Linked DNA regions of Homo sapiens: all the other regions are linked to region 1. Evidence: fine-mapped expression QTL. A gene starts in region 1. Each other region holds a variant in brackets. All regions are shown on one strand. Distances are between the middles of the regions.

Region 1 (10,841 bases):
CAGACAAGCTGGCCCTCCCAGGGTCCCGCCGTTATTGCCTACAGGTAGTTCAAACAGGAACTGATTTGTCAAGATCTGATCTTAGGAATGCACTGTTTGTATACAGAACACCCTCTGCCACCTATTTCTCCAGCACTTCTAGCTCAACTTCCAATGACAATACCTACTAATAAAGATGACAGTGAGCCCTTAATAAACATTAGCAGAGCCAGGCAACGTGCTCCCACCACTTCCCACACATCGTCTCATTTATCCTTAAAACCACCTGAGGAAACAGTTACCATGATTTTCATTTCACAGATGAAGAAACTCCCTCTACACGTTTGTATCCAAGAGGAAGGAAGTTTTTATTTTGGCTATTTTGGGGACAGGGGAGGTGGCTGGGAAACATCAGGGATGAGGAAAAGCCCCAGGGAACAGAGCCGCCATTCAGAACCTGCAGGATCCCCAAACGGCACAGCAGGCACTCTGGATTCCCCAGGAGACACGCAGCAGGGAGGAGGAACTAGTGTGCCTGGACTCAGCCATCCCCTTCTGCTGCTGGCTCACTGTGCTGTAGTTAGGAAGTCTCCGTCTTTTTGCTTCCAGAGCAGAAGTTTGAGCTGCGCCCCCATCACCAAGGGGAGGAACAGGTATGGCTTTGAGCTTCTCCTAACTGGCTGGTGCTGTCGCCTTCAGTGGCTGCTGGTGCATCAAAGCCCCCTAGCGTCTGGCAGCCCAGAAATAATGAAGAGCAAGGGTGGCATCTGAGCACCAAGGCAGGCGACAGCACAGACACCCATCGCCTTGCGTCCCAGGTGCGGGCTCTCTGACTTGCCCTTTGACAGGGGCAGAGGCCCCTCAATGTGGGATGCTGTCATTGCTGGGGTTCCCAAAGGGGAAGGGAGAGGCACCAAGGACAAGCTGAGCCGCAACGCTCCCTTCTCCAGTCCCGGCAGCTACCAAGGACCTTGAATAAAGGTGGGTTATGAAATGTTGAACACAAGCAAACCCAGATCAGAGAGGAGGAGGTGCCTGAGTGATTCCCGCCCGCCAAGCAGGTCCTCCCAAGCTGGCCTCTGGCTGTGCTCCCAGCTCCCAGGCACACAAGCTCCGGTCAGGCCAGCCTCCCATCCTCCCTGCCCTCTGCCCTAACCTCACTCATACTCCCACAGCACCAGGTCAGCTCCTCTGGGAGCTGGAAGGAACTGAGATGAACACACCAGCTCTTTTTTTCACATATTTGGAGAAAACAGCCATGGGAGGACAGTTAAGAGGGTGGCAGCTCTCCAACACACCTAGTTTGCCAACATCCTTCCTAAATGTAGTGCCCAGAGATGGTCATGAACCTTGAGGAGAAACTACCGTGGTAGCACAGCAAAGGGGCTAAGTGAGAAGGCTCTGGAATCACACAGAACTGGGTTTGAATGCCACTTCTCCCACTTACTGTGGGGCTGGGCAAATAAGTCAACTTCTCTAAGCCCCCAAGTTTCTCTACCTCCACGGGGATTTTGTAAGGACTAAATCCATACCATCCATCAGCAGGTTGAGCCTGGCCCAGGCCAGGGTCTGAGTCAGAGCGAGCACTTAATAACCAGCATCTGCTAGTATTACCGGCACTGCAACAGCCTCCTGCTGTCACTCTCCCCCACACCAGCTGCTGCAGTCCTTTCTAGAAGGCAAACAGGAGCTCGCCAGGATGGGCCTCCCTTAGCCTCCTCGGAGATCTTCAGTGCCTCCTCCAGGCCCAGCCCTTGCTCACCAGACCTTCCTTGTCTGGCCTCACCTGCCGCTTCCACCTTTATGGTCTAACGTGGAACTCCCTGTGTTCCATCTTCCTAAGGCATGCTCCATAATAATCCTTGCCTGGAGTGCTGCTCCCTGCCAGAGAGCACCCCAGAACTCATGTTCATCCCCCCAGGGTTGGGGCCTCTCCCCCAGGAAGCCATTTCTGATCCCTCTGGATCTCAGTTCCCTGTCTTTCCAGGCAGAACCTCCCGTCACGGTAGATCTCTGTTGCACCATCCCTGCTGCCTAGAGCACCCTCCCCGGCCCCACTCCCCAGCAAGTCCTGGGATTCCTTGGGGCCCAGCTCACTCCTCACCAAGAGCCTCCCCCTGGTTCACGCTGCTTCCTCTGAGCTCAGACAGTCACAGGAATGACATCATCGAGCCCCTCCTTACAGTAGGTAATTCCACTTTATTGGTGTTTGCTGTTCATCCTGCCTTCCCAATCAGGTAGCAAATGCCTTGGGGCTGACTTAGCTGCTCCCTCCAAGCACACAGTCCAACAGCCCACTAATCCCTGGGCCAAAGGGACCAGACACCCAGAGCCACCCAGGAAAACTATCACCAAAAACCCAGCTCGTGGCCCCACCCCCAAACACAGCACTTGAACTTCTCCCCTTGTGAAGAAAAAGAAACACACACACACCCTCTCTCTCCTCGCAGCCTCTAAAATAAAACATTTTTCACCTAATCAATCCAGTCCATCAGCCCCGGATGTTTCTCCACACCAGGCAATTCGCCATCATGTTCTTCAAGTTATTTTGCTAAACATTATCCAACCTCAAACAAGGGGCGTGGCCTAGAGCCCTTTTCCTGTTCCTTCCTCTCTTGTAAAGATCCCTCTCCTTCGTGTCTTACCAGCCTCTGCCAGGCTCCTACCACAGTCTCTTCCCATCCCCAGGCCCTCCTCCCAAACCCCCTTCTCCAGCCTTCTGCAGATGTTCCCAGTCCCACCACCGTCCCCAGGCTCTGCTTCTGAGTGGCCACCACACACTGTTCTCTCTACAAGCCCACTAGTCCTTTCCCAGGTCTCCTCTCAGTTTCCACAACCTCCCCTTGACCCTTTCGGGTCGTCCCATCAGCACAGATCCCACCACCTCCCACACCACCGCCCCCTGCCAAACTCCCTTCTCCTTCCTCTGCCCAGAGCCTCATGCTCCTCTCAACCCTACTAAGTCTTCGTGGATCCCTTTTCTGTTCCCTTTCAGCTCCTCTTAGCACACTCATGTTTCTCAGTCTCTCCCTCTCCTGACCCCTCCCAGACCTCTCCGCTCGGGCGTCCACCTTGAACCCCCATCAGCTCTCTGCACGCTCCGAACCTGTTTCCTTCTGGAAGTCACATTAACAACAGCTAACACTCTCAGAGATGTAACTCCACGCCAGGCTCAATTCTAACACTCATAGCAAATGGGAGGTAGGTTTGATTTGTGATCTCCTTTAGCAGGGAGACTAAACAATTTACCCAAAGTCATGAAGTAAGTGGCAGAGCTACTTGGGCTCTTGGCACTTCTAAGCCACTACAATTTATCACAGGATGGTCGTGTCAGCTTTTAGGAGCTAACGTGAGTTTTATGCCACGTCATATGTGTTAGTTCTGTCTCCCAGGCCTTTTCCCATCCCTCTTCTCAGCATGTCTCTGTCATCCCTATTACTCGAGGATCACACAGCAGGAATTTGATCCCCCGTTTTGGTTCTCTCAGTCCCCCTGTCTCTCCCTGTTATCCCTCCATCTCCTTGGCCAAGCCACCACCACGCATTCCCCCACCCAGGAGTCTCCAGCCTCAACCCAGGCCTCCTCAGGCTTTTTTCTTTCTTTCTTTCTTTTTTTTTTTTTTTTTTTTTGAGACAGAGTCTCGCTCTGTCCCCCAGGCTGTAGTGCAGTGGCTCGATCTCGGCTCACTGCAACCTCTACCTCCGGGTTCAAGTGATTCTCCTGCCCCAGCCTCCCGAGTAGCTGGGATTACAGGTACCCGCCACCAGGCCCAGATAACTTTTGTATTTTTAGTAGAGACGGGGTTTCACCATGTTGTCCAGGCTGGTCTCGAACTCCCCGCCTCAGATAATCTGCCCACCTCGGCCTCCCAAAGTGCTGAGACCTCCACAGTCTTGACTCCATCATCCCGGGTTCCTCCGTTCAGCTGTCCTTAAACTAGTCACTGCTAACCAGGGCCGTACTCACCCCATGCACCCCCCACACTTCAGACGCGGCTCACCGCTCCTAGGATCATCTAGCCCTGAGCCCCTCTGCCTGGTGTCAGCCCCCTTCAGCCTTCACCCTCACCGCCCAGGGCCCACGCAAATCCACTGCTCCAGGGGTTGAAAAGGTCAGTCCCTCGGGCAGGCGTCCTCAGCCCCAGGCCCCATCACTGCCGCCTGAGAGCCTTCAAACAGACTCCCCTAGAGCTCCGAAAAGCCTCTGGACCTGGCTTCTCTCCCGGACTCCCTCCGTCCCCCCAGGCCGGTCCCCTCCAAGGCTTCAGGACGTACTCCCTCGGTCCAGGTTCTCCCCCGCCCGCTGGCCTGTCTTCGGCCTGGGTCCCCTTCCTCGCCTCAAGATAGTGTCGCCTCGGTCCGTGTGTCCTCAGCCCAAATCCCTTCCGCCATGTCAGACCGTCTCTCCTCAAACCGTGTTGCCCCGGCCCAGGCTCTTGGCCCTCAGCCTGCGTCCCCTCTGCCGCCTCAGGCCATGTCACCTTATTGCAGGTTCCTCTCCGTCCCCTCGGCCCGAGCTCTGCGTGCCCTAACCCGCCACCTCCGAGCGTGACTCCTTCGTCCTCTCAGCCTAGGTCCCGGCCGACCCCTCAGCCCGGTTCTCACCCAAAGAGGCCAGAGAAGAAGGACTGCGAGTTCTTCACTTTGCGCTCCGCCTCGGCCAACAGCGCCATCGCCTCCGCTTCCTTCCCGGAATTGTCCATGGCGGCCACAAAGGGACTCAGCAAAGCGCCTGACCCTGACCCTGGGAAGACTCAGCCGCGGCCGGGCCGCGGAACACAGATCGGTAAAACTCGCCCGGCTGCGTTGACGTCGCACCGGCGCGCGTCGCTTGCGGCCAGGAACCACGTGACTAGCGCTGGCCAACCAGCGGCCTCGTAACGCCGCGCCCGCTCCGCCGGACACGCCCCCACCAGCCGCCGCACGCCGCCCGTGACTCGTGACCCCCCAATCGGCGTCAAGAGACCTCAACGCATGCGCACATACCGGCGAACGGCGCTCCACTCTCTCCCCAGCGCTCTGTACCTCACCTCCCACGTGACCCTGTGGAAGGCAATGGCAGTACCCCCCGCCGAGGCCCCGCCCCACGGTGTTGCTGCTGGATCCTCCTCCACCAATCAGCAGGAGCCCTCGGCTCGCGCTGGGGCGGGGGGTCCCCCACTCGCCCTCCCCGCGGAACTCTGGCACAGTCAGCTGACCGCAGACACTCACGTGACAGCTCGGGGCCCACGCCCGGGTTTGACAGTTCTGCGCAGAACTTAGTCCCGCCCCCGCGGCTGGTCTCGCCGGTTTCTTCACTTGGAAAGGCGTTTGTGGGAAAAGGAAACCGTTCTGCTTTTTCTTGCTCCCTCTGTCGGCCAGTACTAGAACTGCTTTGGGGAGACCGGTGAAGAGAGACTGCAAACAAAAACTTAAGAGGTTCTCTAACTCTGGTTTCATAAAAAATAGCTGAAGAGGGCCGGGCACGGTGGCTTACGCCTGTAATCCCAGCACTTTGGGAGGCCGAGGCGGGCGGATCACTTGAGGTCATGAGTTTGAGACCAGCCCGGCCAACATGGCGAAACCCCGCTCTACTAAAATACAAATATTAACCGGGTGTGGTGGCACACTCCTGTAATCCCAGCTACTGAGGAGGCTGAGAGAGGAGAATCGCTTGAACCGGGGAGGTGGAGGTTGCAACGGGCCGAGATCGTGCCACTGCACTCCAGCCTGGGCGACAGAGTGAGACTTAGTCTCAGAAAAAAAAAAAAAATAGCTGAAGAGAGCGTGTTAAAAAAAAATTCAGATTCGAAGATGGGCGCGGTGTCTCGTGCCTATAATCCCAGCTACTCGGGAGGCGAGAGGATCGCTTGGGCCCAGGAGTTTGAGTCTAGTTCAAGTCCCGCCTTGGGCAACATAGCAAGACTCTGTCTCTAAAAAAAAAAGTTTAGGCTCAAACACACCTCCTGCTGTCCCAGAAAATTGAGTTGCTGGTTTCTGAGACAGGGTCTCACTCTTTGGGTTGTTGGTTTTGGAGACAGGGTCTCGGTCTGTCGCCCAGGCTGGAGTGCAGCAGCACAATCATAGCTCACCTCAGTATAACTTTGTAGTGCCAGAAAGGAAGGAAGTATTCCACACGTGTGCTCACACACAAAATTAGGGGGTATGCCAAAGGAGCCAACTGAAAGAACTCCCAATGGCCAAAGCTGGAACAATTTGAGCATCAAAATAAAGTAGTATTGGATTATAATCCCAAACATAAAGTATCCATGAGCCTATGGTCATATAGATGAATATAGAACAAATAAATAAAGGGGGGAGAATAGACAAATAGTTTGTGCAGAAGAATTCCAAATAATCTGCGTAGATACTCTGCTCTCAAGAAGGTGAAGGATACCTCCCCATTCTGTAAGTATGGACTGTGCATAGTGACTTCCTTTCAAAGAAGAGGGTACAAGAAAGGGGAGAAAAAGCCTAAATTTACAGTGGAGAAACCTGACATTGACATCTAGGTGATTGAGGTTAACCTCAACATTGATAAGTCATGTGATTAAAATGGCTCTTTACTTCTGGGATCTTTCAATCTAATCATGAAAAAAACACTAGACAAATTCCAGTTGAGCCACATCCTCCAAAATACTTGCCCAGTACTCCTCAACACTGTTGGTGGGTGCAGTGTGTCACATCTGTAGTCCTGGTACTTTGGGAGGCCAAGGCAGGAGGATCACTTGAGGCCAGGAGTTTGAGACCAGCCTGTCCAACATGGGGAAACCCCGTCGCTACTGAAAATACAAAAAACTTAGCCCGGTGAGGTGGTGCATGCCTGTAATCACAGCTACTTGGGAGGCTGAGGCAGGAGGATCACTTGTACCCTGGAGGTGGAGGTTGCAGTGAGCGGAGATTGCCTCACTGCACTCCAGCCTGGGGGACAAGAGGGAGACTCCGTCTCAAACAAATAACACTGTCAAGTCATCAAAACAAGGAAAGCCTGAGAAACCATCACAGCCAAGGAGACGTGACTGCTAAATGTAATGTCTTACCTTCGGTGGGATCCTGGAACAGAAGGGCATTGAGTTAAAAAACCAAGGAAATTGGCCGGGTGCGGTGGCTCATACCTGTAATCCCACCACTTTGAGAGGCTGAGGCGGGTGGATCACCTGAGGTCAGGAGTTCCAGACCAGCCTGGCTAACATGGAGAAACACTGTCTCTACTAAAAATACAAACATTAGCTGGGCCTGGTGGAGGGCGCCTATAGTCCCAGCTACTCAGGAAGCTGAAGCAGAATTGCTTGAACCCAGGAGGTGGAGGTTGTGGTGAGCCGAGATTGTGCCACTGTGCTACAGCCTGGGTGACAGAGTGAGACTCCATCTCAAAACAAACAAAAACACTAAGGAAATCTAAATAAACTATGAAGTTTAGTTAATAATATTGTGCCATACTGGTTCATACGTGGTAATAAATGTACCATTCTAATATAAGATGTTAATCATAGGGGAAACTGGGGTATGTGGGAATTTTTTTTTGCTGTCATTGCAGTTTTTCTACAAATCTAAAACTATCCTAAAAATCTTCTTTAAATAAAACAGTTTCCAAGGCCGTACCCACAATGGTTCCAATTCTGAGTCTGTGGTGGGTCACAGGAATCTGCATTTTTAAAAAACAGAACCCTATATAATTAGGATGCAGCCAGACCTGGTGGTTCATGCCTGTAATCCCAACACTCTGGGAGACCAAGGCGGGAGGACCGCTTGAGCCTAGGAGTTAAGGACCAACCTAGGCAAAAAGCAAGATCCTATCTCCACAAAATTAAAAAAATTTTAATTACTCCTTGGGAGGCTGAGGTGGGAGGATTGTTTGACCCCAGGAGTTTGAGGCTGCAGTGAGCTATGACTGTGCCACTGCACTCCAACCGGGACAACAGAGTGAGACCCTGTCTCATCTCAAAAAAAAAAAAAAGTAAAATTAGGATGCAGATAATCCCGGGACCACAGTTTGAGAAACCGCTATTATCTAGGGGGTTGGCTGAGCCGAGCAAGGCATAAGAAGCCTTCCCCCAACTCTCTTCATACATGAATAGACTTGCCTGGACCACCTACTTGTGGTTGCCACTGTGTCCTGACCACAGAGCAGGTGGGGGTGAGCCTGGATTACCACAAGCGGTTTTGGTTCCATGTCTGTCAAAGCAACACTATGTAAAAGCTTCTGTTTAAGCTGTTCCATTTCAGGGTAATTTGTCATGCAGCAACAGATAATATAACCCCTCAGCCTTTTCAACCAGGGAATTTTTTTCCATTTCCAGAGTTCATTGGATTTATTTAGGATGGGATCCAAACAATATTAGCAATCACATGAGAGCTTGTTAACTAGTAGCCATTCAGTTCTTATGGTGCACCCTCCCAAGTGCTTAATTTACATTTTATTTCTATTTATTTATTTATTTTGACATGGAGTCTTGCTCTGTTGCCCAGGCTGGAGTGCAGTGGCACGATCTCTGCTCACTGCAACCTCTGCCTCTGGATTCAAGCAATTCTTGTGCCTTAGCCACCCAAGTAGCTGGGATTACAGTCATGTACCACCACACCTGGCTAATTTTGTATTTTATATTTTTAGTAGAGATGGGGTTTCACCATGTTGGCCAGGCTGGTCTCGAGCTCCTGACCTCAAGTGATCCGCCCACCTTGGACTTCCAAAGTGCTGGCATTACAGGCGTAAGCCACCACGCCTGGCCATAATTTACATTTTATTTAACTGATAGGTTGCGGGGGTTGAGGAGGGGCAATTTTCATCCCATTTTACAGATTGAGAAAACTGAGGCTCCCACAGGGAAAGTGATTCGCCCTAGTTTACAAGGAGGTAAGAGGAGCCAGGATGGAATTGAGGTTCATCTCACACCTGAACCCTTTCCCTTAACTGCAGTGTTCCAACTGCTTCAAACTCAGCGTCCACCTCTGCCCCACTCCCAGCCAATCTTTAAGCCTTAGCTGATAGGTGGGCCCTCTGTGAAACCTTCTCACGCTGCCGTCTACTTTCCCAGCTCTTCAGAACACGGCTCACCCTATCATAGACACGATCACACCCTGATGCAATCAATCCTCTGCAGTCAATTCCCCATCTGAGCTAATGGCATCAACTACAGCTGCTCAGGCTCAAACCTGCCCTGCTGGCCTTGATCTGTCCTTTCCTTGACCACCTCCCACTGATGTGTGAGCCACTGACAACTCTGTCGCCCAGGCTGGAGTGCAGTGGCGCGATCTTGGCCCACTGCAACCTCCACCTCCCAGGTTCAAGTGATTCTCCTGCCTCAGCCTCCTGAGTAACTGGGACTACAGGTGTTCACCATCATGCCTGGCTAATTTTTTTGCATTTTTAGTAGAGACGGAGTTTCACCATGTTGGCCAGGCTGGTCTCAAACTCCTGACCTCAAATGATCCACCTACCTTGACCTCCCAAAGTGCTGGGATTACAGGTGTGAGCCACTGCGGAGCCTACCTTTCTTTTCTTTCTTTCTTTCTGATGGAGTCTTCCTCTACCAGGCCGAAATGCAGTGACGCAATCTCGGTTCACTGCAATCTCCACCTCCCAGGTTCAAGCGATTTTCCTACCTCAGCCTCCCAAGTCACTGGGATTATAGTCATGTGGCACCACACCCAGCTAATTTTTGTATTTTTAGGAGAAATGGGGTTTCACCATGTTGGCCACAATGGTCTTGATCTCTTGACCTCATGATCCGCCCGCCTTGGCCTCCCAAAGTGCTGGGATTAGTGGAGAGAGCCACTGCACCTGGCCATGGAGCTGCATCTTGAGTGGTCTAGGCTAACTGTGGTCATTTCCCTTCTCACTAACAGGGATCAGTTTAGAAGCGAACACAGGCTCAATGAGACATACGGGCATCTGCTGGGAGCTGTTAAAAGTTTTCCTCACTCTTAAAAAGGGAGGCAGGGAGGGGGGCTGTTTTCTCTTCTTTCCCCCGCCGCCCGCCCCCTGCCGGTCTGGATTTTGGTTCGAGGTTATTCTCGCCTCTGCTGGAGCCCTCGTTCTGCCCCTGCCCCTGCCCCTGCCAGGGGTCCCTGATTTCAAGGCTGAGCCCCTACTGGGACAGCCAAACTCCATGATTGTTTAAATCAACACCAACTCTTCTGTTACAGTCAAAAGCATTTCCAGTACCATGACCTAAAATCACCTTGTTTGCTTATTACTGCTACCTTCCTGCTCCTACAAGAGAAGGTCCGTGAGGAAAAGGGCCTCTCTTGCTTCACTATCCCTGTTGTACGGATTGGCAACGTCCAGTGCATTCTACAGCAGGTGCTTCGTAGATGTTTGCTGAATGAATGTCCAAATCAACATGCCCGTGTTCTCCCCAAGGCCCCCAGCCCCCAGGGCAGGCCACAGCTGACTCACCTCCTGCCCTTAGCACGTGGTGGGGTTCCTAAGCCTTTATTGGATCAATAGGCAGGGAAGTCAAAGACAGCAGCTCAAGAACCCAATTTAATCAGATTTACGAGTTGACATGTACAAAAAACACCGAACAATGCAGAATTCATCGCAAGACTAGGGACTGAATCTGGAAGGTAGAGTCCCCGCCCCAGGGAGGGGCCCAGCGTGTTGGAGATCTCAAGGTTTTTTCCCACTGATTCTCTAAGTCTTGGCCTTATCTAACACATGAAACCAAACCCCACAACTGAGGCTAAGATTTAAGAGCTACCCAGAGCTAAATTTTCCCCTCCCCAAGCCTCCCTGCTCTAGAAGTGGAAGGGAAAGAAGGGGAGAGACTATGAACCTAAGGAGAGTGGAGCCTCCAGCACCACCGGACAGGGACTGCATAGCTGTCCGACAACTGAGCTCCTCCTGCCTATCTGTGGCCAAATGCCCTCCATGTTTGCAGG
Region 2 (10,841 bases), 63 kb after region 1:
GCCTTCCCCGCGCCGCCCGGGGCGCACGCGCAGCCCGGCCCACCCCCGGATCTCCTCGCTCACGCGCGGCGCAGGCGCGCGTACGTGACCGCGGGCCGCCTCACGCCTCCCAGAGCGGCCTCGCGCGTGCCTCCTGGCCGCGCGCTCTCGGCTGCTTCTCCGAGGGGCGGGGCTTGCCGCGGGCGGGAAAGGAGGCGGTTGGTCGCCATTTTGGGAGGGGGCGGTTGAGGGCGGAGAGTGAGAAGAGTGAGCCGGGGAGGAGCGGCGGGGGGAGGGGCCAGTCCCCCAAGACCCGCATCCCGAGGCCGAGAGTCCCGGGAGCCTCCACTCCAGCCATTGTTCCTGGTGGGCGGTGTTAGAACGCGGTGGCGGCCGCTGGATGGCTGCCCCCAGTCCCCGGAGGGGCCTCTGAGCAGCGTCCTGGTGCTGGGAGGCCGTATCGTCTGTTTCCGAGGACCCTGTCGCGAGCGCGGGAGTCTCTCAGGGTCTCTTCTGCGTCATTGGGTGGGGGAGATGTGGGGCGAGCTGCTCCTCCCTTTTTTTAAAATTTTTTTCAGAGACAGGGTCTCTCCCTGTTCCCCAGGCTGCGATCACGGCTGCCGCACCCTCCCCTTCCTGGGCTCAGGCGATCCTCCTGCCTCAGTCTCTTGAGTAGCAGCGACCACAGGCGGGCGCCGCCACACCTTGCTAATTTTTACATTTTTTTTAGAGATAAGGTCTCGCCATGTTGCCCAGGCTAGCCTGGTTCCCCTGGGCTCAAGCGATCCTCCTGCCTCAGTCTCCCAAAGCATTGGGATTATAGGTGAGAGCCACCGCGCCCAGCCTATTCCTCCCTTCTTTGGGGAAAGGCTGAGCCATCTGGGGCCCCTGCTCCGTGCTGAGCTGTGTTGGGAAGGGCGGTAGGCCCTGGTGCCGACTGGCCAAGGACCATCTTTTTTTTCTTTTTTTTTTTTTTTGAGACAGGGTCTTGTTCTGCCGCCCAGGCTGGAGTTCAGTGGTGCGATCTCGGCTCACTGCAATCTCCGCCTCCCGGGTTAAAGCGATTCTCCTGTCTCAGCCTCCCGAGTAGCTGGGATTACAGGCACGTGCCACCACGCCCGGCTAATTTGTTGTATTTTCAGTAGAGACGGGGTTTCACCATGTTGGCCAGGCTGGTCTTAAATTCCTGACCTCGGGTGATCAGGTGATCCGCCTGCTTCTGCCTCCCAAAGTGCTGGGATTACAGACCTGAGCCACCGTGCCCGACCTGGCCAAGGGGTTTGAACTGTCCTGCAACTGAGGCAGATAATTCATTCCTTAGAAACGGAGTGCTGAAGATCTGTGGAGAATGAGAGCAGATTAGTGGTTGCCCGGGGTGGAAAGGGGCATCGCGGATCTTATCTGGGTAATGGAAATATTCTAAAACTGAGCTATGGGCCAGGCGTGGTGGCTCACGCCTGTAATCCCAGCTCTTTGGGAGGCCAAGGTAGGAGGATCCCTTGAGCCTAGGAGTTTGAGACCAACCTGGGCAACCTAGTGAAACCCTGTCTCTAAAAAAAAAAAAAAAAAAAAATTAACTGGAGATGGTGGCATGCGCCTGTAGTCCCAGCTACTTGGGAGGCTGAGGCAGGAGGATCGCTTGAGCCTGGGAGTCCAAGGCTGCAGTGAGCTATATGATCAGGCCATTGCACCCCAGACTGGGGGATAGAGCGAGACTCTGATGGGGGAAAAAAAGGGTTATGGTGATGGTTGCACAACTCAGTAAATTTCTAAAAATCAGTAAGTATACACTTAAGTGAGTGACTTTTATGTAAATTATACCTCAAAGTTTTTTTTTTTTTTAATTGATTATTGGGGGAGGAAACAGAGGAAAGAAGAGGGCCTGTCATCTTGCTTTAGGATCCCTTCATTTAGCAAGTTTTTATTGGGTCTCTGTTCTAGGTGCTCAGATATAGTGTCTGGGTCAAACAGACATTCCTCTCCTCCTGGAACTTATGTTTTAGAGCAGTGCTGTTCAGTAGTAATAAAATGCAAACTTCAAGCACCAGCCACTTATGTAATTTTACATTTTCTAGTAGCCATGTTTAAAAGGAACAAAATGTAAAGAAGGCAGGTGTGGCGGCTGGCACTTGTAGCCCAGCTACTTGTGAGGCTGAGACAGGAGGATCACTTGAACCCAAGAGTTGGAGACTGCAGTGAGCTATGGCCCTGTCTGTGTAGAGCCACTGCACCAGCCTGGGCAACATAGTGGGACCCATTCTCTTAAAAAAAAAAAAAAATGGCTTGGGACGGGTGTGGTGGTTCACACCTGTAATCTCAACACTTTGAGAGGCTGAGGCAGGAGGATTGCTTGAGTTCAGGAGGTCAAGACCAGCCTGGGCAACACACCCAAACCTAAAAATCAAATAAATAAAAGTAAATAATAAAATAAAAGAGAAAGAAACACAAGTGAAATTAATTTGGTAATATTTAATCCCAAATATTTCAACACATTATCAGTATAAAAACTAAGAGATAATTTACACTTTTGGGGCTGTCTTTAAAACCCCACATATACAGTATTTTACATTCACGGGACATCTCAATTCAGACCAGCCACATTTCCAGGGCTCCATGGAACCTTGTAGCGAGTGGCTCTGGTACTGACAGCATACCTCTACAGGGGGACAAGCAAATGCATTTACTTTTTTTGTTGTATTTTTTTGATACAGGGTCTCACTATGTCACCTAGGCTGAAGTGCATTGTTGTAATCATGCCTCGCTGCATCCTTGACTTCCTGGGCCCAAGCTATTATACCACCTCAGCCTCCTGAGTAGCTGGTACTACAGGCCTGCACCACCACACCCAGCTAATTTTTTGTATTTTTAGTAGAGACAGGGTTTTGCCATGTTGGCCAGGCTGGTTTTGAACTCCTAGGCTCAAGCAGTCTTCCTGCCTTGGCCTCCCAACATGCTGGGATTACAGGAGTGAGCCACCGTGCCTGGCTGCAAATACATTTATAATGCAGTATGTTATACCTTGAAGAAAAACAAAGGAAAGAGGATGGGGTCAGAGGGTATTGTTTTATACAGGTCAGTAAAGGCTTCTCTGGTGAGATTGCATTGAGCAGAGATCTGAAGGAAGTAAGGAAGGGTCCTATGAAAATATCTGGGGGAAGAAGAGAGGGAACAGCACGTGCACAGGCACTGAGGCAGGAAGATGTGGAACCCTTTTGAAAGACAGCAGAGAGGCCAGGCATGGTGGCTTATGCTTGTAATCCCAGCAATTTGGGGGGCCCAGGTAGGCTGATCACTTGAGCCCAGGAGTTCGAGACCAGCCTGGCCAACATGTTGAAACCCCATCTCTACTAAAAATACAAAAAATTATCTGGGCATGGTGGTGCACACCTGTAGTCCCAGCTACTCGGGAGGCTGAGGCATGAGAATCTCTTGAACCTGGGAGGCAGCGGTTGCAGTGAGCCGAGATCACGCCATTGTGCTCCATCCTTGGTAACAGAGTGAGACTCTGTCTCAAAAAAAAAAAAAAAATCAGAAGAAGAGAGACCAGTGTGGCCAGAACCACGTGAGTGAAGAAACTAGGGGCAGATGGCATAGGGACTTACAGGTCATGCTAAGGCAGGAATTAAACTCCTGGAAACAATTTCAGAGGGTTCTTCCTTTATTTAGCACACTTTTTGTTTTGTGGGGTTTTTTGTTTGTTTCTTTTATTTTCTTTCTTTTTTTCTTTTTTCTTTTTCTTCTTTTTTTTCTTTTGAGACAGAGTCGCGCTCTGTAACCCAGGCTGGAGTGCAGTGGCACCATCTCGGCTCAATGCAACCTCTGTCTCCTGGGTTCAAGTGATTCTCCTGCCTCAGCCTTCTAAGTACCTGGGATTACAGGCTCGTGCCACCACGCCCAGCTAATTTTTTGTATTTTTAGTAGAGACGGGGTTCCACCATGTTAGCCAGGATGGTCTCCATCTCCTGACCTCGTGATCCACCCGCCTCAGCTCCCAAAGTGCTAGGATTACAGGTGAGAGCCACTGTGCCTGGCCTTCTTTTCTTTTTCTTGTTTTCTTTTTTTTTTTCGCTTATTTAGCACACATTTTAAAAATGCTTTGTTTCAGCCATGTAATCTCTCTTCTTGATGGAGGAAATAAGGATCCTAGCCACTGGACAGATGAGAATCTAGTTAAAAAACAGGACTTAAGCTCCTGAAATAAATTAGCATCTTCTGTCATTGATAGACATTGAACACTTCATGGACACAGAAGATAAATGCAACACATAAACAAAAAATTAGCATTAGCCAAGCATGCTTGTAATCCCAGCACTTTGGGAGGCCAAGGCAGGTGGATCACCTGAGGTCAGGAGTTCGAGACCAGCCTGGCCAACATGGTGAAACGTCCATCTCCACTAAAAATACAAAACTTAGCCAGGTGTGCTGGTGCGTGCCTGTAATCCCAGCTACGCAGGAAGTTGAGACAGGAGAATTGCTTGAACCTGGGAGGTTGAGTCTGCAGTGAGCCGAGATCGCACCATTGCACTCCAGGCTGGGCAACAGAGCGAGACTCTGTCTCAAATAAAAAAAAGCATTTAGCATTTATTTTAAAGGCCTACAAATTAAGGTGACAACCTAATAAAAAAAAAGAATATAAGATTTGAAGAGGCACTTCATACAAGAGGAAACATGAAGTGAGGACTAACCACAACAACAAGAGAATGCAAATTAAAACCAAAGATACCGCAGCACACCTACCACTTCGGTGAATCAAAAAACATTTTTTTTTTTCTGTTTGCTGAAGCAAGACGAACTGAGTATACAGGACTAGTGACAGGTAAAATTGGTAGAACCACACTGACAAACCCAGGGGTTAACTCTAGAAAACTTCTTGATCATGTGCGCCAAGAGATGCAACAGAAGAACAAGCAGCAATGTTTGTAATAGCAAAAAAAAGAACAGAAAAGAAAGGAAAGAAACAGATTGGATCCTGGATTCTGGATTGAATAATCCTGGAACAAGATAAATAAATAAATAAATAAATAGGCCAGGCATGGTGGCTCACGCCTGTAATCCCAGCCCTGTGGGAGGCCGAGGCAGGTGGATAACTTGAGGTCGAGAATTTGAGACCATCCTGGTCAACATGGTGAAACCCCATCTCTACTAAAAATATAAAAATTAGCTGGGCATGGTGGTAGGCACCTGTAATCCAGCTAAGGCTTAGGAGGCTGAGGCAGGAGAATCGCTTGAATTTGGGAGGTGGAAGTTGCTGTCAGTGAGCTGAGATGGTGCCACTGCACTCCAGCCTGGGAAACAGAGTGACAGTGACTTCATCTAAAAAAAAAAAAAAAGACATTACTTAAAAAACTAGAGAAATCTCCAACAAAGGCCAGGCATCTGTAATTCCAGCACTTTGGGACCCCAAGGCAGGAGGATCACTTGAGCTCAGGAGTTCAAGA[C/G]CACCCTGGGCAACTTGGTGAGATCCTGTCTCTACGAAAAAATTTTAAAAGTTACCCAAGCATAGTAGCACACACCTGTGGTCCCAGCTACTCCACAGGCTAAGGCGAGAGGATTGCTTTAGCTCAGGACTGCATTCCTATCTGGTTAACAGAGCAAGACTGTCTCAAAAAAAAAAAAGAAAAAATCTCAACAAAGATTGGAATTTAGTTAATAGTAATGTATCCACTTTTTGGGGTTTTTTTTTTTTTTTGAGACAGAGTCTCGCTCTGTCGCCCAGGCTGGAGTGCAGTGGCGCAATCTCAGCTTGCTGTAAGCTCCGCCTCCCGGGTTCACGCCATTCTCCTGCCTCAGCCTCCCGAGTAGCTGGGACTACAGGCGCCCGACACCACGCCCAGCTAATTTTTGTATTTTTAGTAGATGGGGTTTCACCGTGTTAGTCAAGATGGTCTCGATCTCCTGACCTCGTGATCTGCCGGCCTCGGCCTCCCAAATGCTGGGATTACAGGCGTGAGCCACCACGCCCAGCCTTTTTTTTTTTTGAGATGGAGTCTGGCTCTGTCTCCCAGGCTGCAGTGCAATAGCATGATCTTGACTCACTGCAACCACCGCCTCCCAGGTTCTGCCTCAGCCTCCAGAGTAGCTGGGATTACAGGCGCCCGTCACCACACCCAACTAATTTTTATACTTTTAGTAGAGACGGAGTTTCACCATGTTGGCCAGGGTGGTCTAGAACTCATCCTGACCTCAGGTGATCCGCCCGCCTCAGCCTCCCAAAGTGCTGAAATTACAGGCATGAACCATTGCACCCCGCCTGTTTTGTGTGTGTGTGTTTTTTTTTTTTTTTTTTTTGAGACAGGGTCTCATTCTGTCGCCCAGGCTGCAGTGCAGTGGTGCCATCTGGGCTCACTGCAATCTCCGCCTCCCAGGTTCAAGCCATTCTCCTGCCTCACCCTCCTGAGTAGCTGGGACTACAGAAGTGCACCACCATGCCTGGCTTATACATTTTTTATTTTTTGGTAGTGACGGGGTTTCACTGTGTTAGCCAGGCTGGTCTCAAACTCCTGGCCTCAGGTGAGCCGCCTGCCTCGGCCTTCCAAAGTATGAGGATTTTAGGCATGAGCCACCGAGCCTGGCCAATGTTTTTGTAGTTTTGACAAATGTATAGTTGTGTCACTTAACAACGGAGATCTGTCTGAGAGATGTATCTTCAGGTGATTTTTTCCTTGTTGCGTGAACGTCGTAAGCTGTACAAACCCAGATGGTATAGCCTAGCACACAGCTAGGCTGTATGGTGTAGCCTATTGTTCCTAGGCTACAAACATGCAGCATGCAACTGTACTGAATACTGTAGGCAGCTGAAACACAAAGGTAAGTATTTGTGCATCAAAACATAGAAAGGTACAGTAGACCAGGCGTGGTGGCTCATGCCTGTAATCCCAGCACTTTGGAGGCCGAGGCAGGTGGATCACCTGAGGTCAGGAGTTCGACACCAGCCTGGACAACATGGTAAAACCCCATCTCTACTTAAAATACAAAAATTAGCCAGGTGTGGTGGCAGGCACCTGTAATCCCAGCTACTTGGGAGGCTGAGGCAGGAGAATCACTTGAACCTGGGAGGCGGAGGCTGCAGTGAGCCGAGACCTCGCCACTGTACTCCAGCCTAGGCGATAGAGCGAGAGTCCATCTCAAACAAAAAAGAAAAGAAAAGAAAAGAAAAAAGAAAAGGTACAGTAAAAATACAGTATTATAATCTTACAGGACCTCTGTCATATGTGTAGTTCTTATTGGCCAAAACGTTGTTATGTGGCACATGACTGTCCTGTGATAAAGTAAGATGCCAACATCAGGGAAAGGGTGAGGGGGATGTGGTAACTCTTTGTACCATCTTTCCAAGTTTCCAGTAAATTTAAAATTACTCCAAAATAAAAAGTTTAGGGTGAAAAAAGAAGGAAAGGAAATGAAAATGTCCACCTATAGGAGACTGGATAAATCGTGGTATAGTTATTCAATGGAGTATTATGCAGCAGTGAAAATGAGTCAATTTCCATTACACACAGCAACACAGATGTGCTCCCATTTACATATAACATTTCAACAGGGTGTGGTGAATCGTGTCTGTAATCCCAGCACTTTGGGAGGCCGAGCCAGGAGGCATCACTTGAGGCCAGGAGTTCAAGACCAGCCTGGACCACATGGCAAGAAAAATTAAAAATAAACTGGGCATGGTGGCGTGATCTGCCTGTAGTTCCAGCTTCTCAGGAGGCAGAGGTGAGAGGAACACTTGAGCCCTGGAGGTCGAGGTTGCAGTGAGCCATGATCCCACCGCTGCACTCCAGCCTGGGCAACACAGTGAGACTCTGTCTCAAAAATAAATATCATTTCAAAACACAGGCAAAGCTAAACAATAAGCAGTTTAGGGACATAGATAGAATTATTATTTTTTTTAAAGTAAGGGAGCCAGGCATGGTGGCACACACCTGTGGTCCCAGATACTCGGGAGGCTGAGGCAGGAGGATCACTTGGGACCAGGAGTTCTGGGCTGTAGTACACTATGCCAATGCAGGGTCCACGCTAAGTTTGGCATCAGTTTGGTGGCCTCCTGAGAGCGGGGGATCACCAGGTTGCCTAAGGAGGGGTGAACTGGCCCATGTTGGAAATGGAGCAGGTCAAAACTCCTGTGTTAATCACTGGTGGGATCATGCCTGTGCATAGCCACTGCACTCCATCCTGGGCAACATAGCAAGACCCTATCTCTTAAAAAAAGAAAAAACTAGCCAGATGTGGTGGCATGTGCCTATAGTCCCAGCTACTCAGGAGGCTGAGGTGGGAGGATCGCATGAGCCCAGGAGTCCGAGGTTGCAGTGAACTATGATTGTACCACTGGACTCCAGCCTGGTCTACAAAATGTGACCTTATCTCTCATAAACAAAACAAAACAAAATAAAATGGAAGCCCCTGAGAAGCTAAGGGAAAAGATGCTCTTCAGAAGGAGAGGGGTACACCCTGGCCGCAGGTTCCTCTTCTCTGCCAACCTTTTCCTGTTGTCTCCATCTATTCACTTTGTTCAGCATTGCTTTCTGTGATTTGTCTTTTGAATCACGTCCTTCAAGCATTCTCACACTCCTCACTCCTCTCGGCCTCTAAAGGACTCACCTGGCCAAACTCCAGCCATCCTCTTCTCTGTGCCAGCCGAGCCCAGCAGAAGGAAACCACCCAGCCAGCCCAACGGGTTTTACCTGAATCAGAGAAATCACAGGCCTCAGACAGGCGCAGGGCACTCTCTATGTGTCTCTGGTGTGCTTACATTTCCCCCCTGCCCTCCAGCCCATGACTAGGTCCCACACTTCCCTGTGCACATAGAAGCCATCAGAAGGGAACCCCCTTGTCATCTGTCCCTGTGATTCCCTCTCTCAAGGATTGGGGTCTCCCTCCCTCCTTCCTTCCTTCCTTCTTTCCTTCCTTCCTTCCTTCCTTCCCTGCCTCCCGCCCTTCCTTCCTTCCTTCTCTCCCTCCCTCCCTGCCTTCCTTCCTTCCTTCTTCCCTTCCACCTCCCTCCTTCTCTCCCTCTTTCCTCTTCCATTGAAGTTTCTCCTCCTCTCCTCCTCCTCCCCCCTCCTCCTCTTCCTCCTCCTTTTCCTCCTCCCCTCCTCCTCCTCTTCCTCTGCCTGTCCTCCTCCTCCCCTCCTCTTCATCCTCCCCTTGTCCTCCTCCTCTTCCTTTCCCCCTCCTCCTCCTCTTCCTTCCCCCTCCTCCTCCCCTCCTCCTTCCCTCCTCTTCCTCTCCTCCTCCTCTTCCTCCTGCCCTCCCCCCTCTTTCTCCTCCCTCCTCTTCATTTCCTCCTCTTCTCCTCTTTCTCTTCCTGTCTCCTATATCATTCATCATCTCTCTCTCCTTCTGCCAAATCATGCCCATCACTATCCTCAAATGCTCCTGCCTCTTCCATTCATTTTTTAAAAAGAATTCCTCCCTTGAGGGAACCGAGAGATAAGAGAGACTGTAGCCACAAATCAACCACATGCAACCCAAGGACTTTGGATGCTGAGTCGAACAGACCAATGTTTTGTTTCGTTTTGTTTTTAAATTATCAGACAAGTAGAGAAATCTGAACTCTGACTGCCTATTCGATGATAGGAAAGAATTATGGTGCATTTTTTAGATGGATCACGGGATTGTGGTTATATTTCTATAAACAAACCTTATCTCCAGAGATATGAAATGAATAATCTGTACATGAAATGATGTGATGTCTGGGATGTGTTTTAAAACTATCTAGTGGGGTGAGGGTGGGGCCAATGAGAGACGGTAGAAATGAAACAGCATTGGCCATGAGTTGATAATTGGTGAGGCCCAGTGACCGGCATGTGGAGTTAATCATACTCTTTTATTTTTATATATATTTGAAAATGGGCTTATTTAAAAGTGATGTAAAAATTCCTCTCTTTGGCTGGCTGCAGTGGCTCACACCTGTAATCCCAGCACTTGGGGAGGCCAAGGTGGGCAGATCACCTAAGGTTGGGAGTTTGAGACCAGCCTGATCAACGTGGAGAAACTCTGTCTCTACTAAAAATACAAAATTAGCCAGGCGTGCTGGTGCATGCCTGTAATCCCAGCTACTGGGGAGGCTGAAGCAGGAGAATTGCTTGAACCTGGGAGGTGGAGGTTGCAGTGAGCCAAGATCACACCACTGCACTCCAGCTTGGGTGACAGAGACTCTGTCTCATAAATAAATAAATAAATAAATAAATAAATAAATAAATAAATAAAATACAACAAAATCACACAATAAAATCCAACATCCCTCGCCACATCCTGTAAATCTGGTCTGTCCACCCTCTGGCCTCACCTCCACTCTCTGTTCAGGCTTGCTCTCCTCCAAGCACACCAACAGAGCAAGTTCCTATATGCTGTTCCCTCTTTCCAGAAGATTCACCTGGCTTCTTCCCTCCCCTCCTCAGTCTATGCTCAATTGTCCCCTGCTGGGAGGTTCCTTCCACTGACTATTCTCTCCAGTTTATTTTCTTCGGGAAGCTCATCTCTACCTGACATCACGTCACACCTGGTTGTTTGTTGATCGTCAGTCTCTCTGCTAGAATGTAAGCTTCATGCTGGCAGGGGCTTTGTCTGTTTTGTTGCCTAGAACAGTGCCTGGCACGCAGTAGATAATTAATTTTTTTTTTTTTTTTAGAGATGGCATTTTACTCTGTTGCCCAGGCTGGTCTGAAACTCCTGAGCTCAAGCGATCCCCCCACCTCAGCCTCCCAAAGTGTGTGAGCCACTGCACCCAGCTAATAATTAATACTTTTTAATTTTTTTTGAGACAGGGTCTCACTCTGTGGCCCAGGCTGGAGTGCAGTGGCACAATCAAAGCTCACTGCAGCCTTGACCTCCCCAGGTTCTGGTGATTCTCCCAGCTCAGCCTCCTG
Region 3 (10,841 bases), 540 kb before region 1:
AGGGCGGCGATTCACCAGGAGCTTCTGTGCCCTCTCTGGATACACACTCTCCCAGCACCTCGATGTGTTTACCAACCCAGAAGCTCTACAGACCCTGTCACTGAGGGTGTTTATGGCGTTTCTGTGATGTCCGCTTGATTGATTAACTCATTGGCCATTGGTGATTGAGCTCAATCTCCAGCCCCTCTCCCCTCACCCCCAGAGGTCGTGGGTGGGGCTGACAGTTCCAACCCTCTAATAAAGGTTTGGTCTTTCTGGAGACCAGCCCCCATATCCTGCACTATCTAGGGGCCCACAAGAGTAACCTCATTATCATGAAACTCAGGTTTGGTTGGAAGGGGCTTGTTTGTTCTGAGACGGAGTCTCTCACTGTTGCCTGGGCTGAGTGCAATGGCACGATCTCGGCTCACTGCAACCTCCGCCTCCCGGGTTCACACAGTTCTCCTGCCTCAGCCTCCTGAGTAGCTAGGATTACAGGCGCATGCCACCACACCCGGGTAATTTTTTGTATTTTTAGTAGAGACAGGGTTTCACTATGTTGGCCAGACTGGTCTCGAACTCCTGACCTCGTGATCGGCCTGCCTCGGCCTCCCAAAGTGCTGAGATTACAGGCATGAGCCACCATGCCTGGCCAGAAGGGGCTTGTTAATGAGTAACAAAAGATACTTCTATCACTCAGGAAATTCCAAGACTTTGGGGAACTCTGTGCTAGGAGCCGGGGACAAAAACCAAATATATATTTCTTCTACTACACTGCCCCATCCCCTCCTGCAGGGGTCCTAAATTTAAGACCTTGCTAGTGGGCTTCCTGCACCCTTCTGAGGGTGCGCAGGAGAGGAGGCTGCCAGCCTCTACATCTGGAAGGAGCACCAGGGAGGGCCCAGCCTGGGGCTGGGAGCTCAGGGGCCAGTGTGCCGCGGCAGCACAGTGAGAATCCTGGGCCTGTGTGGGGCTTGTTCTTCACTTTACACCCCATACATGGTTTATTAGTTAATCTCCCGTGAGCCAGAGGACAGTATTAATCTCAAAGTAATGCTAATCCCTTTTTACAAGAGGAAACAGAAATCCCCAAGTCCTCTGGCAGAGGCCGTTCACAGCCCATCAGAATGGAAAAGGCCTACGTTCCAGCCCTTTTCCTGTCTTCTCTGCTTTAGGCTGATGAAGCTGTGAGTTTTATAGCATTGGACTGAGCAGATTCAGAATTTTACCAAATACCTTCCCACTTGGAAAACAGCCACCCTGCAAAAAACCTCCGTGTTTCCCTCCACATTCATCATAGCCACCAGTTCCTAGAGCTATCATGAAGGAGAGTTGGCGGGACGAGAGCTGTTAAATTCAGTTAGTTACTATTTCCCTGCAGTCAGCCTAGATCTATGTAATTCTGTCTTTCAGAGAAGGCAGCTAATTTCAGTATAGATACTCCCATCTATCACTGTAACAGTTTAATAGGTACGGTTATAGCTTGAATACACCAACAGGCTTTATGTGAGTAATTGCCGTATTTGCACTGCTTTGAATTGATAAAGTGCTAAAATATGAGGTATACTGTTTCATATGCTGTGATTTTTATGGGGGCTGTCTGTTACTTAATCTCTCTCCCTCCCCCTGTAATTCTAGTTTTACTAACAAATTGCTTTCCCACAGTCCAAATAGTTTTAAAACAAAGCTTTCTCCTTTTTTTTTTTTTTTTTTTTGCTACCATTCCTCACCACCCTCCCGTTTTTCTGCTTGCTTATAAGTTAAGCACAAGTCACTTGCATTCCAGAAATTCCCCATTGCCATAAAGGCAGGCAGTCAGCTCGCCAGCTCTTGCCTGTTCCAGATAAGCAGGGTTCATTTAGCTTGTGACTCGGCATTGCTAGCGGATTTCCTCAGGCCCCAGTGCCCTGATCAGAACAGTGTGCCCTGGCACACCGCCTGGAGAGCCCAGCAGCCAAGGAGAAGTAGAGCTTGTTTCACAAAGTAACCCTGGCCTTCCATCCAAGACAGAAATAGTCTGGGTGGCGGCCCAAGGCCCCGAGACGGTTCCAGCCGGCTGCTTTGCCTGGCTGTCCCGGCTGCACTCGCCTTCTCCATGGTGGGGAGCTCGGGCAGACAGGTTGCTCTGGCCTGAGCGTGCCAACCAGGCCCATGGCCTGTCCTGCCATATTTGCCAAGGCAGTACAAACAGGACGGTACAGCAGGCTGTCCTGTGAGAGTGGTCCCAAGGAGCAGTACCCACTCTCGGCTGCAGGACCTTCTCGGGCCCTTGGTGGAGCTGGCCTGACTGTGCCATTGAATTATCACCTGGGGGCTCCGGTGGCCCTTGCTCTTGCTCTGTGTCTGTCTGTTCATCTCACTCACACGCACACCTTCTGTGCTGCCTTGCTCATGAGGTTTCACACCCAGCAAATCCCCATGCCTCTATAACCCCTGTCAGTTTCCTTGACCTCTGCTTTTTTCCTGTTCATTTCACCAAAGCCAGTGAAGCACAGATGAACTAACCTCTTCTCCTCCGTGTTACACTCACTGTAAAAACATCTAAGACCCGCATAAGGTCAGTCTGGGAAGGCTGAGCCCTGATAAAAGGCGACAGAGCAGCCCATTAGCAAGAATGTGGCCAGCTTCTGCAGGGGGCGTGGCCCTGTGGGGACTCCCAGCCACAGCCAAACCATGGCTCTGCCCTGTAAAAGTTAACAGCCAGGTCTGGAGACCAGACTTAACAGCAGCACATGACTGGCTGTGGCGAAATAATGAACCCACTACGTTCCTAGTGAAGTTACCGGGAAGAAGGGGAGGGAGAAGGCTTCTTGGTGAATGTAGAACCTCAATACATCTGGAAAGGAAAGTAGGAGTTGGATGCTCCAGCCGCTTAGGGAGCAGCTCCTCCATGCTGGCCCCAGTAAGGCACAGGCCCCTTGAGAACAAACACTTGAGTCGCCTTCCTCCCTCTCTTCAGCTGGAGAAACGCTGCACTTTTCTTCCTCCTTCCCTCCTTTCTGAAGACAGCTACTGAATGCCTTCCCTGGTACTAGTTACTGTGCAAGCCCAATACACAGACGGGTGATGAGAGGACTCTGCCTGCTCCTGTGAACTCAGGGGTCTACCAGGGGACCAGCATTAAGCAGCTAATCACACAGCTATCCAGCGACTTTCACATGGTGCCCAGGGCTGTCCAGGAAGAGCATGGAGACAGTGCCTTGTGGTGATTGATTAAACACAGACTCTGGAATCGGACTGCCCGGGTGTGAATCCCAGCCCTGCCATCTGTTTGCCACGTGGCTCAGTTTGTTCAGTTATAAAATGGGAAGAAGAATGGTAGAATACAACTCACAGAGCTGGTGTGAGGACTGGGTGAGACAGTGCATGTAAAAGGCTTATGGCTGGCCTTGGCCCAGAGTGCCGGCACTGCGTAAATGTAAGCAATTGTTGGGATCCTATAACAGGAACTTAATTTAGTCTAGGAGTCAGGGGAGACCTCGGAGGGAGCATTGTTTAGTCACAGAACAGAGGTAAAAGTGGAAGGAACAACTGTAGGGAGGCCCTGCAAGTTCATCAGGACTGCAGTGAAGTATAAGGGGAGGGTGGCAGGCTTGAGCCTGGTGACAGGAGCCCCCGAGGCCACATGTTGAGAAGTTTGTGTTGTACCCTAGATTTTTATCCTAGATTGCAGGGACTGGGATCAGCCTTCCTGCCTGAGGCTTACAGGCTTCTGACTCTGAAAAGTATTCTTTCTTAGGGAAGAGAGGCCAGGAAAGGAAGGGACACTGGGCTGTGATTGGTGACATGTTTGCCTCCTTTCATGGGTCATTGGGAATCAGGAACCTGAAGGAAGTTAACCTCTGCCCTCCTTAATGCTTGGGAGGAATCTGCTTGTAACCCCAAGGGGCTTTTCTACTTGGGCCTGCCGTGGAAAGGAAGCGGGTGTTTTGTGTGTGTGTGTAGTGGGGTCTGTGTGTGGGGGGTAGGATATGTGTGTGTGTGGTGGTGGCGTGTGTGATGGGATGTGTGTGTGTGGTGGGATGTGTGTGTGTGGTGAGGTGTGTGTGTGGTGGGATGTGTGTGTGGTGGGGCGTGTGGGGGGGGTGTGGTGTGGTGTGTGTGGTAGGGCTGTGTGTGCGGTGGGGTATGTGTGTGTGGTGGGTGTGTGTGGTGGGGTTTGTGTGGTGGGATGTGTGTGTGGTGGGGCATGTGTGTGGTGGGATGTGTGTGTGGTGGAGTCTGTGTGGTGTGTGTGTGTGGTGGGGCATGTGTGTGGTGGAATGTGTCTGGTGTGTGTGGTGGGATGTGTGTGTGTGGTAGGGGGTTTGTGTGGTGGGGGATTTGTGTGGTGGGGTGTGTGTATGGTGGGGTTTGGTGGGATTGTGTGTGTGGTGTGGGGGTGTGTGTGGTGGGGTGTGTGTGTGGTGGGGTTTGTGTGGTGGGCTGTGTGTGTGTGGTGGGGTTTGGTGGAAAGTGTGTGTGTGGTGGGGCTTGTGTGGTGGGACGTGTGTGTGTGTGTGGTGGGGCAGGTGTGGGGGGGTGTGGTGTGTGGTGGGATGTGTGTGTGTGGTGGGGTGTGTGTGGTGGGATGTGTGTGTGTTTGTAGGGGGGTGTGTATGTGGTGGATGTAGTACACCTGTATTGTGCTCGCGGTCTGTTTCTTTGTTGGTGGATCTTTAGCCTGTAAGATCCCTCACAGTGGTGGCACCAGCTCTCCTCGGAGTCACACTGCCATCACTCCAGTGCCACTGGGCCTGCGTGGGCATGCCAGCAAAGTCACACTTCAGAGCATGAAGACGTCTCACGTTCTTGGCAGGACGGCTCTCCCAGCTGCTCCTGGCTTTGAA[T/C]GTTCACTCCCGTTTTGCAGAGCGCAGTCGGCTCACCTCGATTATGGACCACACTCTTCCTCCAGAATGGGCAGGGTGTCAGCTCTAGGCTGGCCTCAAGTTCTTTGCCAGCGTGGTTTCTTAAGCCCAGCTGTTGGGATATGCATTTTCTTGAAAGTCAGGGAAAAGAATGGAGCCCCCTGTTGGGCTCAGAGCAGGTCCAGAAGTCCTACTTGACGGTTCATGGCAGCAAATGCATAGGCAGCTTCTGAAGGATCAGCCAGATGCTAGAGCCATCTGATCCCCCAGACCTGGTGCGATGTTGCACCTCCTCCCTCCTCCTCAGCCCTGAGATTTATGACATGGCCGTGTGCGCATCGCTGGCATCGGGAATGTATAAAGCCACAGTGCCTGCTTGTGGCACTCACACCCAGTCAAGTCATCGTAATAGAGTGTTAGTGGCCTTCTATCATGGGGGGAAAGTCTGGCACAGGAAGAAGCAGGTCTTGACTGACAGGGGAATTACCTGGGAAGACAGCTAACGAAGGGGCAGGGGAGGGACAGAGGACCCGAGTGTTCAAGGAGGAGAGCAGCCAGAAAACCACCCAGGCACCTCCCGAGCAGGAAGGCAGCAGGGGGAGCTGCGGGGACTCGTGTGATTTCAATAGTAGCGCTTCTGCGGAGAGACACAGCGAGGAAACCTTCTCTATGGAGAGGAGGCCGTCGTTCTTCTCAGGCCAGACATCCTTGCCCTCCAGTTCATAGAAGAGAAAATTGAGGGCCGGGCGCGGTGTCTCATGCCTGTAATCCCAGCACTTTGGGAGGCAAAGGTGGGCGGACCACCTGAGGTCAGGAGTTCAAGACCAGCCTGGCCAACATGGTGAAACCTCGTCTCTACTAAAAACACAAAAATTAGCCAAGCGTGATGGTGGGTTCCTATAATCCCAGCTACTCGGGAGGCTGAAGCAGGAGAATCGCTGGAACCCGGGAAGCGGAGGTTGCAGTGAGCCGAGATTGCACATTGCACTCTGGCCTGGGCAACAAGAGTGAAACTCTTGTCATCTCAAAAATAATAATAATATTTACAGCATCTTGACAGACTCATTAATGATGTCATTACCCCATTTTGGATGAGGATTCCAAGCCCCTGAGAGGAGAGGCGATTTACTCTCAGACACCCAGCCTAGCTATAAGACAGAACCAGGATCAGAACCAAGGTCATTTTGGTGTCAAAGCCATGCATGTTTTAAAATGTTTTTCTACAAACTGTCTTGTTTTGGCCACGCTCTCAGAATAGGTCATGCCTACAGGCAGGTGCCATTGTTGAGGCTTGTTAAGAGTGTAGAGAAAAAAGAATACTGGCAGGCATTGTGCAGTGGACTGTGCATAGACGATCTCATTTATTCCATTGTACGGTCAGATTAGCTGAGGTCAGGGGCAGGATTCGAACCCATGTCTCCCTGACAGCAGAACTCAGGTGCTCATCCACTTGCCAACCAGCTTTCCACTTAGATCATTAGGATAATAGCTACTCTCTCAGCACTAAGTGCTAAGATCTCATTAAATACATACCACCAGGGGATGAGGTGAGAACTGTTATCTCTGTTACACATAGAAGGAAATGGAGACATGATTGCTTTGATTTTGACCTAAATGCTCTCCTGCCCCCTCACCCTTTGATCTTCCATTGAGGTGAGATTGGGGGAGTGCCGCAGTGTGGTCCTCAGAAGACACACCATAGATACACTGTTAGCATTGGATGAAAAAGAAGGGCTTCATACCTTTCCACAGAGGTCGGTCCTCTTCAAGACCATTTGAATTTAATGCTCAAAGAGTTTCCTTCTCTCCCTGAGTGCTCAGCACCCCTCCGGCCTTGCAGTTTAGCCTGCCTTAGACTTAGTCTTGCATGTGTAAAAGAAAAAGGGAATGGTTTATTAGATGCTTCCAGACTCCAGAAAAGTCGACAAAAGTTGTTAGTTAAGTCCTGCCTGGCATGGGGTGTTTTAGAGTACTAGCAGTGCCAATTAAATTTTTTTAAAGGACTAAGTGCTGAGTTTCTATATCTAAATATAGAAAGTAAAAAATAAGCAAGTCTGAGTTCGTCTTGGAGGAAGTATTGATGTGTTGCTAGAAAGGAAACTTTGGAGGAACTGAGTCCTGGTGTGAAGGAGCAGAGGCGAAGCCTGACGCTGGCCGACAGCACTGCTGCTAAGAAGGGCCTGCCTGGGGTCCAGGATCAAAACCTGTTTGGATATTTCAGAAAATCAGGATACCAGGAAAGGAGGTGATTTTCCCCATTGATTTCCAAGCTCCTGAGGGGCATCTCTCCATTTTTTTAGTGTCCGTCCTGCCACAGACACCTCCCAGGAGCAGGGCCAGCCACCACAGCTCTGACAGGGCAGTCGAAGGGCTGAAATACCAGTTCCTAGTCCATGGGGAAGTCCCCACCAGCTCTCACCGGAGGGCCGTCTAGTCTTCCTATGTCACCAAAGTATTTTTTGGTGTTTTGTTTTGTTTTGTTTTGTTTTGTTTTGTTTTGTTTTGTTTTGAGATAGGGTCTCACTCTGTCTCCCAAGCTGAAGTGCAGTGTTATGGACATGGCTCACTGCAGCCTCAACCTCCCAGGCTCAAATGATCCACCCACCTCAGCCTCCCAAGTAGCTGAGACTACAAGCATGACACCATGCCTGGCTAATTTTTTATTTCTTGTAGAGATGGAGTCTTGCTGTTTTGCCCAGGTTGGTCTCGAACTGGGCTCAAGCAATCCTCCCGCCTTGGCCTCCCAAAGTGCTGGGATTATAGGCGGGAACCATCACGCCTGCCCTGCCAAAGTATTTTTGTGGAAGACCAAGACTGAAAACTGTGTAAAGGAGCCGGGTGCGGTGGCTCATGCCTGTAATCCCAGCACTTTGGGAGGCCAAGGCGGGCGGATCACTTGAGTTCAAAAGTTTGAGACCAGTCTAGCCAACATGGCAAAACCCCATCTCTACTAAAAATACAAAACTTGGCCAGGTGCAGTGGCAGGCGCCTGTAATCCCAGCTACTCGGGAGGCTGAGCCATGAGAATCGCTTGAACCCAGGAGGCGGAGGTTGCAGTGAGCCGAGATTGAGCCACTGCACTCCAGCCTGGGCAACAGAGTGAGACTTTGTCTCAAAAAAAAAAAAAAAGATTAAGCAATGCCTAAGGGCTTGTTTTCGTATAAAAAGCAGCAGTTTTCATGCTGTTTGGAAGTGCTTTGTTCCTAAAGTATGTGGTATCTATTTTGCCTGGTATATTACCCCTGATTTTATTGAATCATAGAATTCAAGAGTTCTGACTAAGACTTCTCTGGAGCCTTAGAGCTCTGGCACATCTTCTAGAATGGCAGTTCTCCAAGTGTGGTTCGCTGGCCAGCAGCAGCAGCATCATCTGGGAATGCATTAGAAATGCAGATTTTGAGGCCAGGCGCAATGGCCCACACCCAGAATCCCAGCATTTTGGGAGGCAATGGCAAGAGGATCGCTGGAGCCCAGGAGTTTGACACCAACCTGGGCAACAAAGTGAGACCCCCATCTCTACGAAAAAAAAATTTAAAAATTAGCCAGGTGTGGTGGTGCACACCTATAGTCCCTCGCAGCTACTCAGGAGGCTGAGGTGAGAGGATCGCTTGAGCCTGGGAGGTTGAGGCTACAGTGAGCCAAGATGGTGCTACTGCACTCCAGCCTGAGTGACAAAGCAAGACCTTGTGTACAAAAAAAAAAAAAAAAAAAAAAAAAAAAAATTCTTGGGCTCCCCTCCAAACTGACTGAATCCAAAACTCTGTGGCTGGAGCCCCCGCACCTGCACCGTAACAGGCCCTCCAGGTGACTCTGCTGCATGCTCACTCTTGAGAAATAGTGATTTTGAGCATCATAGAAGAAGAACTCAGGTAGGATTCAAATCCCATCTGTGCGACTCACTCATTCTCTACATGTTCCTTTACCTCCTGGTCTCAGCGTTCCTGTCTGTAGAATGGGATAATAATCACCAGTCTGGAGGGGTTATTGTGAGAACTGCTATGAAAAGGCACGAAAGCACTTAGCACCGTGTGCCTCATACAGAGTAAGCATTTGATAAATGGCTTATCATTATTGTTATTAGCTAGCTTCCTAGACCAGGTATTCATCTTTTTAAACAGTACCCCAGTCAGATGGTTGTCTGGTGAGAGGAGATTCAAAAATTCTGGTCTATTTCAATGAATAACAGCTATGGCTGTTAATAGTTATATATTGAGAGAATATTTGCCATTCTGTAATGTCCATTCTTTTTTTTTTTTTTTTTTTTTTTTTGAGACAGAGTCTCGCTTTGTCACCCAGGCTGGAGTGCAGTGGCACGATCTCAGCTCACCGCAAGCTCCGCCTCCCAGGTTCACGCCATTCTCCTGCCTCAGCCTCCCGAGTAGCTGGGACTACAGGCACCCGCCACCATGCCTGGCTAATTTTTTTTGTATTTTTAGTAGAGACGGGGTTTCACAATGTTAACCAGGATGGACTCGATCTCCTGACCTCGTGATTCGCCCGCCTCGGCCTCCCAAAGTGCGGGGATTACAGACATGAGCCACTGCACCCAGCCTTGTAATTCCCATTCTTGATTGTAGCTCTGTCCCCTAGAACCATTGGAACAAGACTTTTCTACATGGCCTTGTTCAGATATTTGAACATAGTGATCTTGGCTGTTCTGAGCTTTTTCTTGTTCTATTTCCAAAGATTAACTTAAACATAGAAGATAATTGCAGCCAGTAGGGAGGGCTTTTAAAAAAGAAGGAGAGAAACAGAAAAGGCCTGCAGCCAAGGCTATGCTTTGGTGACATGGGTCTTTGGAGATTTCTGGTAGGTAAGGATGCCTGTGAGTTTAAGGTTGAGGCTTTCTCAGATGGACTTGGGAGCCTGCAGTAGACATGGTGGGTGGAGGTCACTGTTGGTAAGAATTCTGCCTTCTGCCACTGGCGGGTGTGGGCCAGAGTCACCCCTAGGGTGTTTCCATGTAGGAACAGTGGGGTGTTCTAGACACAAATGCCTTAATATCCAGCATCTTTGCCAGGGGGTCTGCTCCAGGACCCCAGCCCTTTTCCTGCTGTGGTCTCAGGCCTTTGGCAAGCTGCCCGTGCTCTTTCCAGCGTCCTGTTTCTCACCTGGGTTGCCAGCTCCCTGCAGCCTTGGTGGTGTTTGCAGCCTGCTCTCAGTTTTTTTAATCTTTTTTTAATTGATGTCTAATTAGTAGTTACGATAAATTGCACTAGCCAAGCAAATGCTACCTTTCCTAAATTACGCCGTGGTATTGTGTACGACAGCAGCAGGGTTGCTATTTTAAAATGGGATTGCGTAAAATAAACATGTGCCCAGATGACAGGAAGTACTAAGTTGATGATTAATTGATGCTCTGGTACGGCCTCGTGCTTTCCAGTGCTTCCATTTGTGTGACGATCCATCTAGTGAAGTTTCAGCAGGTCCACACCACTGATAATTGCCAGATCGCTAATTTGCAGTTCGTCTCCTGCCCTCTCATGCCGGGGCCGGTGGCCATTATGAGGCAATGCAGAGCAGTCCTCAGTCCCGCTGAAGGTCAGGGTCACCAGAAGGTGATGTGCGGCCCTCGGCTGGCCAGGTCTTCTGCAGCTCGGAGACTGCCTCTCTACACTGAGACTCAGGAACGGTGACATTGCTGCATTATTCCGGACTCTTGAGACTGGTGCTATTTGTCCTGTCATTTTCTTTGTATTATGTAGGGCTGATATTCAGGGAAAGGGAAAATAACTTAGATTTAGTTTTATTTGTTTTTTTCAAATTAGGAGATGAAGACTTGAGCCTGCTGACACATACCCAAGGCTTGCTCATATGTGAAATAGGTAGAAGTTTAAATATGTCTTGAGAGCAGTTGAGAAAAGAGTCAGTGGAAAAATTACTAACTAGTGCTGGTGAGCAGGGTCTCGACAGCACAGGGGGTACGGGTGTGCCATCTCAAAAGCTGCCCTGGTGCTTAGGCCAGAGGGCTTCACCCAAGTGTGGTGCTGCTTCTGAGAAACGGGGGTGCTGTGG

Direction of the effects. Alleles are on the strand shown, and positions count from the first base shown. SD is a standard deviation of normalised expression in the study named. Not every link is listed here.
With allele T in place of C in region 3, the expression in CD4 T cells of the gene that starts at base 4,804 in region 1 is higher (large effect, 1.0 SD a copy in BLUEPRINT).

What was found. PIP is the estimated chance that this variant, and not a neighbour inherited with it, causes the effect.
Region 2: its variant is fine-mapped to the expression of NAPA in whole blood (TOPMed, PIP 0.92).
Region 3: its variant is fine-mapped to the expression of NAPA in CD4 T cells (BLUEPRINT, PIP 0.95).

What each region holds. Positions count from the first base shown.
Region 1 is chr19:47,510,260-47,521,100 of GRCh38, forward strand. NAPA (NSF attachment protein alpha) reads right to left here and starts at 4,804. Exons shown (of 11, transcript NM_003827.4): 1 at 4,584-4,804. The coding sequence starts at 4,681. It overlaps ZNF541 (zinc finger protein 541), which reads right to left. Exons shown (of 17, transcript NM_001277075.3): 17 at 10,431-10,841. RefSeq lists silencers at 4,753-5,092, 7,953-8,247 and an enhancer at 5,183-5,452.
Region 2 is chr19:47,573,149-47,583,989 of GRCh38, forward strand. It overlaps a transcript of ZNF541 not described here and the pseudogene RN7SL322P. Among named protein-coding and RNA genes, the nearest start is that of ZNF541, 5.4 kb to the left of the region's middle. RefSeq lists an enhancer at 4,727-4,806. The variant C/G (reference allele first, on the strand shown) is at 5,418.
Region 3 is chr19:46,974,537-46,985,377 of GRCh38, forward strand. The region is part of intron 3 of ARHGAP35 (Rho GTPase activating protein 35); the gene reads left to right. Among named protein-coding and RNA genes, the nearest start is that of NPAS1, 40 kb to the right of the region's middle. RefSeq lists enhancers at 1,576-2,433, 2,434-3,289. The variant T/C (reference allele first, on the strand shown) is at 4,809.